Linked DNA regions of Homo sapiens: region 2 is reported to be linked to region 1. The links are microRNA targets in miRTarBase. Many come from high-throughput screens and were not tested one by one. Region 1 holds a microRNA gene; the other region holds the end of a gene's coding sequence.
What was found. The annotated mature microRNA hsa-miR-6890-3p reads CCACUGCCUAUGCCCCACAG and lies in region 1 at 1,607-1,626, shown strand. An mRNA with a match to its seed (bases 2 to 7 or 8) in the 3' UTR can be bound and repressed. Matches are read on the target gene's strand: a 7mer-m8 pairs with bases 2 to 8, a 7mer-A1 pairs with bases 2 to 7 and ends in A, and an 8mer does both.

Region 1 (4,000 bases):
CAGACTTTATTTCTCTTTTCCCATCCCCCTTATTTTAGGTACGTACCCGGTTCCCGCCAGAACCCAATGGAATCCTGCATATTGGACATGCCAAAGCCATCAATTTCAACTTTGGCTATGCCAAGGTAAGCATGTGTCTAGGGACCTGGCAAGCAAGATGACCACTTGCTGTTCCCATGAGTGGATACCATATCCCTGCCTTGCTGTCTGCTCCCAATAATGTACCCAGGTGGGCAGAGGCCATGGAAAGGAACCACATGTGTGACAGATACCTAGGAATCTATTGAGCTTATTGGAATAAATAGCTCCCTCCCTCTGAGGAGTCAGTGAGTTCAAATTTGGGGGAGTTGCCAGTGCAGTCCCTAGGCTTAGAAAGATGCTAGGTTAGATACAGGAAGGTGAGAGAAGCTCTTGAAGACATTTTTAATTCTGACATGAGTCCGGGTTGGGTGGCTCACGCCTGTAATCTCAACACTTCGGGAGGCTAAAGTGGGTGGATCACTTGAGGTCAGGAGTTCGAAACCAATCTGGCCAACATGGTGAAACCCCATCTCTACTAAAAATACAAAAGTTAGCTGGCCATGGTGGCACACGCTTGTAGTTTCAGCTACTGGGAAGCTGAGGCAGGAGAAACCCAGGAGGTGGAGGCTGCAGTGAGCCAAGATGGTGCAAGATAATCAAGACTCCATCTCAAAAAAAAAGAAAATTCTGACATGAGAGTGCTCTGTGAATATCCTAGTTTGATAAACAGGATTGTGGGGCTGATGGATGATGTGGGAGTTCACAGATGGTGCAACTTTCCTAGGCCAACAATGGCATCTGTTTTCTGCGTTTTGATGACACCAACCCTGAGAAGGAGGAAGCAAAGTTCTTCACGGCCATCTGTGACATGGTAGCCTGGCTAGGTATGGACTAGGCAAAGCCTAGAAGGGCTGGTGGTTAGTGGGCCTCTCCTTGGGCCATGGCCTGCCCACTGGGTGTTTGTGGCTGGCTGCTCATACTTTGTTTCATTTTGCCCCAGGCTACACACCTTACAAAGTCACATATGCGTCTGACTATTTTGACCAGCTATATGCGTGGGCTGTGGAGCTCATCCGCAGGTAAGGCCAGGGCCATGACGTAGAGCCAGGCAGACTGACTAGGTCACAGCCATGCTGGGCACTCACACCGCTTCCCCACAGGGGTCTGGCTTATGTGTGCCACCAGCGAGGAGAGGAGCTCAAAGGCCATAATACTCTGCCTTCACCCTGGAGAGACCGTCCCATGGAGGAGTCACTGCTGCTCTTTGAGGTGGGGTCCTAGAGGAGCATCTGGGTTTGGGTGGGCCAAGGTGCTGAGAATGAGATGCTCCTGTGCTTAGAGACAGCCTGAGTCCTTGTTCCCCTCAGGCAATGCGCAAGGGCAAGTTTTCAGAGGGCGAGGCCACACTACGGATGAAGCTGGTGATGGAGGATGGCAAGATGGACCCTGTAGCCTATCGAGTCAAGTATACACCACACCACCGCACAGGGGACAAATGGTGGGTGTAGAATGGGGTGGGGTGGTGGGGCTGCCGAGCAGGGCGATGGGCCATGGGGTAGGGCAGAGTAGGGCTGGATGGTAGGGCCCACTGCCTATGCCCCACAGGTGCATCTATCCCACCTACGACTACACACACTGCCTCTGTGACTCCATCGAGCACATCACTCACTCACTCTGCACCAAGGAATTCCAGGCCCGGTGAGGGAGCTGGGTCCATGGGGTGGTAGGGCCAGTGGAATTCCAGCAGCCCTTCCTGTGGTCTCTGCCTGGTTCCAGAGCTGGCCAGTGCTAACCCTACTCTCCCACCCCAGACGCTCTTCCTACTTCTGGCTTTGCAATGCACTGGACGTCTATTGCCCTGTGCAGTGGGAGTATGGCCGCCTCAACCTGCACTATGCTGTTGTCTCTAAGAGGAAGATCCTCCAGCTTGTAGCAACTGGTGCTGTGCGGTAGGTGCGGCTGTTTGGCTTATGAAAGGTTAATGGCATATGCTCCCAAAGGCCTTCTCACCACCTTCTTATCCACAGGGACTGGGATGACCCACGGCTCTTTACACTCACGGCCCTGCGACGGCGGGGCTTCCCACCTGAGGCCATCAACAACTTCTGTGCCCGGGTATAGCCCAGCAGGTTGGGTAGATACATTGGGGGTTGAGTGTGGCAGTTTGTGATTGTAGCTGTGACTGATGCTGAACTTTCCTGCCAGGTGGGAGTGACTGTGGCACAAACCACAATGGAGCCACATCTTCTAGAAGCCTGTGTGCGTGATGTGCTGAATGACACAGCCCCACGAGCCATGGCTGTGCTGGAGTCACTACGGGTCATCATCACCAACTTTCCTGCTGCCAAGGTGGGCCTGCCTCAACATGTGTGTCACATGTGTGTGTGTAGCTGGGGGTACACTTGGCTCTGGGCATGGGGGTCCTAATGCTGAGTATGACTCATACCTGTCTCCTGTCTCCTGCTATAGTCCTTGGACATCCAGGTGCCCAACTTCCCAGCTGATGAGACCAAAGGCTTCCATCAGGTTCCCTTTGCACCCATTGTCTTCATTGAGAGGACTGACTTCAAGGAGGTAAATTGTGGGGGTGGAGGGTCCCGTTTGCTGCTGAGTCTGGTACTGGGAACCTTTCATCTCCTCATCTCTGTCAGTCCATCTACTTCCTGCTTCAGATGAACCAATCTTTGCCAGACACGGGGGTAGGGAAGCTTCCCCACTTGTTTGACCCTTGCAGCCTCATGTGTCTACCCCACTTCCTATCTCTAGGAGCCAGAGCCAGGATTTAAGCGCCTGGCTTGGGGCCAGCCTGTGGGCCTGAGGCATACAGGCTACGTCATTGAGCTGCAGCATGTTGTCAAGGTGAGAGCCAGCTGCAGCCTTCCTACTGCAGTGCCTGCTGGGGCCAAGATGTGAGTATAGCCTGCAGTCCTGGTTGTGGTTCCCGGGTCTAATTGCTGCTCCCCTCCCCCCACTTCCAGGGCCCCAGTGGTTGTGTAGAGAGTCTGGAGGTGACCTGCAGACGGGCAGATGCTGGAGAGAAGCCAAAGGCCTTTATTCACTGGGTGTCACAGCCTTTGATGTGTGAGGTTCGCCTCTATGAGCGACTGTGAGTGAACAGAGCTGGGGTGGGGGCAGGTACAAGATGCACATTGCCTGCTATGGCTGCCCAGCTGGGGGTATGACCTTCACTTTGGCTGCAGATTCCAGCACAAGAACCCTGAAGATCCTACTGAGGTGCCTGGTGGATTTTTAAGTGACCTGAACCTGGTAGGTTCATGAGGTTTGGGGTGAGGGAGGTAGGCCTCCCTGGTTGGATGGTTGCCTGAGTTCCCTGCCTGCAGGCATCACTACACGTGGTGGATGCAGCATTAGTGGACTGCTCTGTGGCCCTGGCAAAACCCTTCGACAAGTTCCAGTTTGAGCGTCTTGGATATTTCTCCGTGGATCCAGACAGCCATCAGGGAAAGGTGCTTGACTTTACTCACCTGCCCTCATCTGCAGCAGTGACAGTGGCTGCCGTTCATTGTGCCAAGTGCTCTGCATACATTCCCTTAGTTAATCCTCACCACCTGAGGGAGTTGGTATTCATATTCTACTAGTGAGGAAACTGGCACTGAGGATAACTCCAGGCACAAAATTTTGTATGAAGGCTGCCTTTTTTTTTGAGACAGTCTTGCACTGTCGCCCGGGGCTGGAGTGCAATGGCACCATCTCGGCTCACTGCAACCTCTGCCTCCCAGGTTCAAGTGATTCTCCTGCCTCAGCCTCCCGAGTAGCTGGGATTACAGGCGCCTGCCACCACACCCGGCTAATTTTTTGTATTTTTAGTAGAGATGGGGTTTCACCATGTTGGCCAGGATGGTCTCGAATTCCTGACTTCATGATCTGCCCGCCTCGGCCTCCCAAAGTGCTGGGATCACAGTCATGAGCCACTGCACCCGACCTCTTTTTTTTTTTTAATTATTATTTTTTGAGGCAG
Region 2 (4,000 bases), not on the chromosome of region 1:
TGGCCATGTATTGATGGTTTTAACCCAAACTATTCATATTCTGGAATTCAAAAAGATAACCTTTCACCTAGCTTTAGTGAAGAAATGTTACGGTATGCCTCCTATTTAAAAGTGATTGGTATTTTTCTTTTTACATCATAATGTCTGGGATAGGAGAGACGAAGCTAGAGTAACAATTACATTCAAAACTGCAGTGACTCAACATGGAACTTCTTTCTTGCTCATGTCACCATCAAGTGCAGTCAGGAGGCTCTCCTGGTGGCTTTCCCCAGCAGTGCCTCCTGTGCCCTGGCTGCTTCCATTTTGCAAATTCTTCGTTCATAGCTGAATGGAAAGACAAGAGAGTGGTCAATCGTGACAGTTTTACTGCCAGGCCTGGAAGTTGCATATATCACTTGTCTCCACATCTCACTGGCCAGAACTCAGTCACAAGGCCCCAAACTAATTGCATGAGAGACTTGGAAACATAGCACAGCACTAAGAATCTCTGCTACAACTCTGTACAGTTGCCCAAGCAAGTTGGTGAAAGAAGGCAGACTATAAAACCTAGGATGCTGCCTGTCTATTCAAACAGCTGTACAAGGATTTAAGATGTAATTTGATCAAAGAACGTGGCACCGTCATTTTTAAAAAAGGTTTTAATTCCATATAGTACAGTACTTCAATTTTTTTGTTTGTTTGTTTGTTTGTTTGTTTGAGACAGAATCTACTCTGTCACCCAGGCTGGAAGGCAGTGGTGTGATCTCGGCTCACTGCAACCTCCACCCTCCCTCCTGGGTTCAATAATTCTTGTGCCTCAGCCTCTTGAGTAGCTGGGATTACAGGTGTGTGTCACCACGCCTGGGCAATTTTTGTATTTTTAGTAGAGATGGGGTTTTGCCATGTTGGCCAGGCTGGTCTCGAACTCCTGACCTCAGGTGATCTGCCCACCTCGGCTGCCCAAAGTATTTCAAATTTTTGAAAAGTTTTGTGAATCAAATTATCTTCAAGTATGCAAAAACCATGTCTCCACAAACAGTCTTCAATTGCTGACAAATTTTGGGGTGATAAGGTGGTGGCATATTTAATTAAGTACAATTAAGATGTCTTTAATTATAAAGGTTTCAGTTAAATATCTTTTGGAATTATAAAGAATTAGGCTAGGCGTGGTGGCTCACGCCTGTAATCCCACCACTTTGGGAGACCGAGGCAGGCAAATCATTTGAGGTCAGGAGTTCAAGACCAGCCTGGCTAACATAGTGAAACTCCATCTCTACTAAAAATACAAAAATTAGCCGGGCATGGTGGCACACGCCTGTAGTCCCAGCTACTCGGGAGGCTGAGGCAGGAGAATCGCTTGAACCTGGGAGATGAAGGTTGTGGTGAGCTGAGATCATGCCACTGCACTCCAGCTTGGGCAACACAGTGAGACTCCGTCTCAAAAAAAAAAAAAAAAAAAAAGAATTAAACTATACCTTTAATATATGAAGAAAATGATAGTTTGGCATCATTTATAGTAAATGTGTTCATAAACATTCTAAATATTCCAAACACGTACATACAGAAGAACATAATCTTAAGACAATGATTTTTATTACCTTTAGTCTACCACATTTGTCACTATAAATATACTTATTGAAAAAAAACCATACTATTTAAATAAGAATTCAGTTCATGAAAGTTTACAAAATACAACCAATGTACTCTGACTTGTGGTTATATCTTAACTATCTCAACTGTACTTTTCTGGTATGGCCAGACCTTTTGCAAATATTACCATGGTATTTTAATTTTATGATATAAAACAGTAGCAATTTATTAAGTTTTCCATTATAAAAATTAATATGGCAATTCTCAAAATACTGAAAAAACTGTTTTATGAAAGCAGTACCCACATCACTGCAACGTATTTCCTTTCTCTTAGAAAACATCTTCAAAAGGCACATTTTAATTACTAGTGTTTATATCTAAAGATAGTAGTTTGAGTTTTGAATTTCCAGTCAATTTTCCATTATCTCAAAATTGAGCTAATGGAGGGTTGGAAGAGGTAGGAGAACGCAGGTTTCCAATGAACTCCCTCAGGGCAGCAGAATCCTCATTCATCTCGTCCATGAAGACCAAAAGGAAGATATAAGGGAAAAAGGAATGGCAGATCTGTTTTGCATCCTAATTTAACCTTCTACACAAAATACTTCATTAAAAGCAAATAAACAAACACAAGATAGTAAGCTTAGAAAACAAAAGGCCTAGACCACAAATTACCCAGTTAAGCCCAAGTGGTGACATTGGTTTTAAGCCTCAAGAAAATGAAACTTCTGCTTCTGTAAAATCACATCTTCATCAATTGAATTTAAATCACTTAGTGCATTAACAATGTTACAAATTCCAATAATGTCAGACATATGGATGATATTCAAAATAAAGTACAAAAATACATTTCAAAATCAAATATAAATGACTTTATGGTTATCTGCCATGCTCCCCTTTAATTTGGCCTGATAGTCTACATTTGACTGTAATTATAATAACATCTGTAATTTCAAGTACAATAGTACAATCATAATAATTTTGAAGAACGTATGACCTAGGACCCCAAAATGCAATCCAATATACAATTTGGAGTATGGTTTACTTTTTAGTGAAGTTTAATACTAATTGAAGTACTAAATTGAACAAGGCCAGTACTCTGAAGTACTAATCTCAAGTATTTGATCCCATGTAAGAAACAGAAGGGAATTTTTAAGGCAATTTTGGTATTCCAAAATATTGGGGATCTACCTTAATTTTCTATTATTCCCCTCAAGTCTCAATTGAATATTTCCATTTTTTAAAAAAAGGGGAAATTTCTTAGGTTTTTTCCTCACTACAACAAAGTAATTCACCAAAAATATTCTCAAGTACAAAAACCAAAATGGTCCTCTATTACTTAGCCAAGATATAATTTTCTGGTCCCTAATAATGGTCACTTTAGGAGTACTTATTCAAATTCTAAAATAGCAGCTTTTGAAATTAAGGCAACATTGCTTTATTCTTACCTGTTTTTCTATTAGCTAACTATTTTATTAAAGTTCGTAAGAGCAATTTCAGACGTAGGCATCCTCAAAGGCCTTTTGTAATGTAAGAAGAATTAGCATGAACATTCTTCTCAATATTAAAAGTTATTGTATTCTACTTGGAATTCTAGAGTAATTACAGTCATTCCAGCATGTGTAAAATTACCTTTTAAACTAACAACAACATAAAATACAAATTTTCTACAAAAATACAATATAGGAGATATAGCACTTCTTCCCTGAAATAGAAATTTAATATTTGGACAAAAAACTGTAAACTTTTGGTTACATTCAAAATACAACCTTTTAAAGACTTAAATTGAGGTTTTAGCAACTGGAGCTCCTAACAGCAGATTTATATTACTATGATGTTTTAAAAACATGATAATTCTAAACAGTTTGTTTCTCTTACTCTGACATTTACTACCAGGAGGAAAAAAATGGCTTCCTGCAATTGACAGTCTGGGTAAAGGAATTGCTCAGGTGGACAATCCGACCCTGACTTCCACCTTGACTGCGTTCCACAATCACACAAGGTATCTGTACTAGCTGGAAAGGACTCTTCCCGTCTCTCAATGCCTGAGTAAGGTTTAAGATCTGTGGGAAGAAGAGAGATTTTTACCAATTTAAAAAGATAAAAAGCTTCACTTCACTGACATTTTTTAAACCATTTATTCATTATAATTTTTATTTCATCCATTTATGAGCAACAGAGACTGTGAAGATAAGTACCTGTTATAAATATGTATTATATGAATGTATGTTTACACACACACGCGCACACACACACGCGCACACACACACACACACAATTAGCATTAAATAACTTTTGCCAGATGGTAAGTTTAAAATATTCTAGAATATCCTGCCTATGTCCAGGAGCAATGGAATCAAAGAACGGTAAGTGAAGAGGTCTACATACATATTCAATTTAACATAAAAACTCAACAAATACTGGTTTAAACAGT

Region 2: miRTarBase lists PI4K2B as a target of hsa-miR-6890-3p. Seed matches in the 3' UTR shown: 7mer-A1 at 1,876-1,882.

Annotation. Positions count from the first base shown.
Region 1 is chr3:49,097,480-49,101,479 of GRCh38, reverse strand. It overlaps MIR6890 (microRNA 6890), which reads left to right and starts at 1,566; the gene lies at 1,566-1,626. QARS1 (glutaminyl-tRNA synthetase 1) reads left to right here. Exons shown (of 24, transcript NM_005051.3): 10 at 39-125; 11 at 806-905; 12 at 1,022-1,100; 13 at 1,182-1,290; 14 at 1,389-1,519; 15 at 1,627-1,719; 16 at 1,833-1,970; 17 at 2,049-2,136; 18 at 2,227-2,370; 19 at 2,491-2,595; 20 at 2,788-2,880; 21 at 3,000-3,127; 22 at 3,222-3,288; 23 at 3,363-3,488. RefSeq lists an enhancer at 626-1,126.
Region 2 is chr4:25,276,643-25,280,642 of GRCh38, reverse strand. It overlaps PI4K2B (phosphatidylinositol 4-kinase type 2 beta), which reads right to left. Exons shown (of 10, transcript NM_018323.4): 10 at 1,439-3,629. The coding sequence ends at 3,456. Among named protein-coding and RNA genes, the nearest start is that of ZCCHC4, 34 kb to the left of the region's middle.